2 separate regions of the Homo sapiens genome follow, and region 2 is linked to region 1. The links come from fine-mapping of genetic effects on gene expression. Tissue or cell type: nucleus accumbens. Region 1 holds a variant in brackets; the other region holds the start of a gene. All regions are shown on one strand. Distances are from middle to middle.

What was found. PIP is the estimated chance that this variant, and not a neighbour inherited with it, causes the effect.
Region 2: it holds the start of WDR35-DT, and the variant in region 1 is fine-mapped to the expression of WDR35-DT in nucleus accumbens (GTEx, PIP 0.95).

Annotation. Positions count from the first base shown.
Region 1 is chr2:19,920,466-19,923,079 of GRCh38, reverse strand. The region is part of intron 25 of WDR35 (WD repeat domain 35); the gene reads left to right. Among named protein-coding and RNA genes, the nearest start is that of TTC32, 20 kb to the right of the region's middle. The variant G/T (reference allele first, on the strand shown) is at 1,230.
Region 2 is chr2:19,988,915-19,991,528 of GRCh38, reverse strand. It overlaps WDR35-DT (WDR35 divergent transcript), which reads right to left and starts at 1,325. Exons shown (of 3, transcript NR_110235.1): 1 at 1,035-1,325. It overlaps WDR35 (WD repeat domain 35), which reads left to right and starts at 1,424. Exons shown (of 27, transcript NM_020779.4): 1 at 1,424-1,537; 2 at 2,247-2,364. The coding sequence starts at 1,514. RefSeq lists a silencer at 1,204-1,283 and enhancers at 1,444-1,493, 1,124-1,627, 1,644-1,693.

The DNA of each region.
Region 1 (2,614 bases):
GTTTCTATAGATATTTGATTAACTAAAAGTATCCCTTATGAGAAATGAAGGAATGGGCTGAAATAAAGGGATGGGTCTGGCTAGTTATCTGCAGCAGGAGCATGTCCTTAAGGCACAGATCACTCATGCTACTGGTTGTGGTTTAAGAACTCCTTTAAGCAGTTTTCTGCCCTGGGCGGGCCAGGTGTTCCTTGCCCTCATTCCAGTAAACCCACAACCTTCCAGCGTGGGTGTTATGGCCATCATGAACCTGTCACAGTGCTGCTGAGATTTTGTTTATGGCCAGTTTTGGGGCTGGTTTATGGCCAGATTTTGTGGAGCCTGTTCCCAACATTCATGAAACTAAATTTATACTTTTTTTTAATTATACTTTAAGTTCTGGGGTACATGTGCAGAATGTGCAGGTTTGTTACATAGGTATACACATGCGTTGGTGGTTTGCTGCACCCATCAACCCGTCATCTACATTAGGTATTTCTCCTTATGCTATCCCTCCCCCAGCCCCCCACCCCCTACAGGCCCCGGTGTGTGATCTCCTGCCCCTGTGTCCATGTGTTCTCATTGTTCGACTCCCACTTATGAATGAGAACCTGAGGTGTTTGGTTTTCTGTTCTTGTGTTAGTTTGCTGAGAATGATGGTTTCCAGCTTCATCCACGTCCCTCCAAAGGACATGAATGCATCCTTTTTTATGGCTGCATAGTATTCCCTGGTGTATATGTGCTGCATTTTCTTTATCCAGTCTATCATTGATGGGCATTTGGGTTGGCTCCAAATCTTTGCTATTGTGAACAGTGCTGCAGTAAGCATACATGTGCATGTGTCTTTATAGTAGAATGATTTATAATCCTTTGGGTATATACCCAGCAATGGGATTGCTGGGTCAAATGGTATTTCTAGTTCTAGATCCTTGAGGAATCGCCACACTGTCTTCCACAATGGTTGAACTCATTTACACTCCCACCAACAGTGTAAAAGCATTCCTATTTCTCCACGTCCTCTCTAGCATCTGTTGTTTCCTGACTTTTTAATGATCACCATTCTAACTGGTGTGAGATGGTATCTCATTGTGGTTTTGATTTGCATTTCTCTAATGACCAGTGATGATGAGCTTTTCTTCATGTTTGTTGGATGCAAAAATGTCTTCTTTTGAAAAGTTTCTGTTCATATCCTTCACCCACTTTTTGATGGAGTTATTTGTTTTTTTCTTGTAAATTTGTTTAAGTTCTTT[G/T]TAGATTCTGGATATTAGCCCTTTGTCAGATGGGTAGGTTGCAAAAATTTTCTGTAGGTTGCCAGTTCACTCTGTTGATAGTTTCTTTTGCTGTGCAGAAGCTCTTTAGTTTAATCAGATCCCATTTTTCTATTTTGGCTTTTGTTGCCACTGCTTTTGGTGTTTTAGTTATGAAGTCTTTGCCCATGCCTATGTCCTGAATGGTATTGCCTAGGTTTTCTTCTAGGGTTTTTATGGTTTTAGGTCTTACGTTTAAGTCTTTAATCCATCTTGAGTTAATTTTTGTATAAGGTGTAAGGAAGGGATTCAGTTTCAGCTTTCTGCATATGGCTAGCCAGTTTTGCCAACATCATTTATTAAATAGGGAATCCTTTCCCCATTTCTTGTTTTTGTCAGGTTTCTCAAAGATCAGATGGTTGTAGATGTTTGGCGTTGTTTCTGAGGCCTCTATTCTGTTCCATTGGTCTATATATCTGTTTTGGTACCAGTACCGTGCCGTTTTTGTTGCTGTAGCCTTGTAGTATAGTTCGTAGTCAGTTAGTGTGATGCTTCCAGCTTTGTTCTTTTTGCTTAGGATTGTGTTGGCTATGCGGGCTCTTTTTTGGTTCCATATGAAATTTAAAGTTCTTTCTAATTCTGTAAAGAAAGTCAATGGTAGCTTGATTGGGATAGCATTGAATCTATAAATTACTTTGGGCAGTATGGCCATTTTGATGATATTGGTTCTTCCTATCCATGAGCATGGAATGTTTTTGCATTTGTTTGTGTCCTCTCTTATTTTCTTGAGCAGTGGTTTGTAGTTCTCCTTGAAGAGGTCCTTCACATCCCTTGTAAGTTGTATTCCTAGGTATTTTATTCTCTTTGTAGCCATTGTGAATGGGAGTTCACTCACGATTTGGCTCTCTGTTTGGCTGTTTTTGGTGTATAGGAATGCTTGTGATTTTTGCACATTGATTTTGTATCCTGAGACTTTGCTGAAGTTACTTATCAGCTTAAGGAGATTTGGGGCTGAGATGATGGAGTTTTCTAAATATACAATCATGTCATCTGCAAACAGGGACAATTTGACTTCCTCTTTTCCTAATTGAATATCCTTTATTTCTTTCTCCTGCCTGATTGTCTTGGCCAGAACTTCCAATACTGTGTTGAATAGGAGTGGTGGGAGAGGGCATCCTTGTCTTGTGCTGGTTTTCAAAGGGAATGCTTCCAGGTTATGCCCATTCAGTATGATATTGGCTGTGGGTTTGTCATAAATGGCTGTTATTATTTTGAGATATGTTCCATCAGTGCCTAGTTTGTTGAGAGTTTTTCGTATGAAGGCTGTTGAATTTTGTTGAAGGCTTTTTCTGCATCTATTGAGATAATCATGTGGTTTATGTCACTGG
Region 2 (2,614 bases), 68 kb before region 1:
GGGTTAGATAATACTAATTTGTCTCATGCGTCCAGTATAGGGAGCCTATGGACAGGGGCCAATGTATCTTAAACAGACACACAAACAATGGAAAGCAAACATTATCTGAATGGGATTGGGTTAAGTTTGGAAAGAATTCCTCATGGAGACTGATTTGTGCTGGTTTGGCTAGGCACAACTGGCCTGTTAAGAGGGTAGGACCATATATAAAGTGGCTTGGGAAGCAGAGCCGGATGGAATGTTGCCCTGCAGAAAGCATATTGGCTTACTTGAGGTGGGGGCTCCCTAGTAAAAACATTTAGGATTGAGGGAAGATCTGATTTTGGATGGAGTTTAGATTTGCTAGGAAAGGCACTAGGGACTATTGTCAATTCTATAATAGATTGTGCTGGGTGAGACAAATCACCCAGGTCAAAGGATTGGAGGATTTTTATTTTATTTTTGTCTGAGATGGGAAAAGACTCCAAGTGGGGAAATTAACTACTGATGCATAAATTACATGCTAGATTATGGTAAAAGGGAAAACCAGAAATAAAAACATAGGTGAGACCAAATAATTTCATGAGTGGTTCTACTTGGATTTCTGCCCTATGCCTTAGACTTTGAGGCTTTGTAACTCTCAAGCATTCCAAAAGGACAAAGGAGAATGAAGAAAGAAGGTAAGAAAAAGAAGAGAATATGTAACAGTCGACTCTAGACGAGAAAACACCAAACGCTCAAATATTTGTAAAATGGGAGGCCATGCCCCAATAGCAATTGTACGCTGTAATTACCCAACGTTTACAGAAATTCCTTTAAAAGGACCCTCGGGGTTGCGGTAATAATTAAACTGTTAAAAAATATCAAAACAAGCGGAATAAACAAAATCTTCTATTCCTAAATTGCTCTAGAGGTTCTCCAATCCCCAAAGACACAGAGAAGGGTTGTAAGATCTCAGTACGCACATTTGCACTTTCATCTGGCCAGTGGCGCCAGCCTATCAAATACAGTAAATGGCTTTTCCCTTTCAAGAATGTTGGAACTTTGGAACTTACAAAATACTAAATAATTTGCCCTTATTCGAACGGGCGCCTCTCCTCTTAGGTTTATAGTAATGCCACCTGAGGCGCGGCTCCATAGCGATCATCACAGGTGTGGCGGGAGGGAGGGCGGCAGTGACCACGAGACGGGGCGCAGAGGGCGAGCGCACGGCTGGCAGTGACAGGTCGCGACCCAGCTCCTTGCGGAGAGCAGAAAGGCCCAGACGCCAGGGAACAGGACTAGCCCAGCTACCGCCTCGCGCCTCGCGCCCTGCGCCCACAAACCCATCGACGTCCGCGCAGGCGCACTACGCCGGTGCCCGGTGCGAGGGCGTCACCGGAAGTGTCCCGCGGCGCCCCGGATGCGACCGGGCAACAGCGGTTGCCAGGGCGACGGGAGCTTTCCGGAGCTGCTGGTACTCCCGATTGGAGACGTAGAACCGTTACTTGTCGAGGGCCTTAGCGGCCGCCGTGACCCTCTCGGGGATCCCACGATGTTCTTCTACCTGAGCAAGAAAGTGAGTTTCCTGGGGGGCGTCCTCGTTTCTCCGCCATTCCCGCAGCCTGCGGCGATTCCCGCTGCCTTCCCGAGAAGCCAGGCTCCTTCACCCGGTCCTGGTCGTGGCTTCGCCATTCCGCAGCCATCCTTCCCGCCGGGTCCAGCCTCCGACCTCTTCCTGCGGTTCCCAGAGCCTCAGTCTTTGGCCGAGCTTGCTGCCCTCTCGCAGCACTCTCCCATTCCTGCCCCTGGCTAGGTCCTTTTGGGTGGCTTGAGGATAAGTCGCCACGTGCTACCCTATGTTTCCTCCTCCACTTGTTGCTGATCCACGTGATTTAAACTCTTTGGATCACCACGAGCCATTGGGCAAGAGAAAAGAAATAACAATAGGATAGCCTAAGTTGTAGGTAAAAAGGAAGAGGGACTGGTGGTATGGATTTATACCCTCTCCCCGTCCTCCCTTTAAAAAATCCATCCGGTGAGACTCTGGCGTTGGCTTCCTCCGCAGTCACTATCCTTCTCTTTTGTGCACTTCTTTCCCTCTTTCCCAAATGCTAGAGCCCGGGTCAGTTCAGGGGACCATGCCCATTTTCACAACAGCTCATTTTTTTTCTGCAAGGCCGTTCGTTTTTCTTCTTGGAAGATTTTCTTCAGCTTTCATCTCCTGCAGACTTACTTCCCAGCTCCTTCGTGAAAAGTTGCTAGTGCGGCTGTGGTTGCTTTTTCAGATTTCCATTCCCAATAACGTGAAGCTGCAGTGTGTATCCTGGAACAAGGAACAAGGGTTCATAGCATGCGGTGGTGAAGATGGATTACTGAAAGTTTTGAAATTAGAGACGCAGACAGGTAAATGAATGCAAGCCCACATGTTTGGTAGTAAATTGGCTAATGTTATTTGTTCAGTGCGGTCTACTCATGTTATCTGTCAATATGCAGTTCTGATTATTTTAAAGGGAAAACTACCAAAACATTTTATGGTGTTTTTCTGGAGTATATTTGCAATAAAGTTCAGAGAATGTTGAATGTAAACATCGGATGGTTTTTGCTGAGTTATTAATGGAAAATGAAAAATAATGAAGAATGAAAATAAGTCACT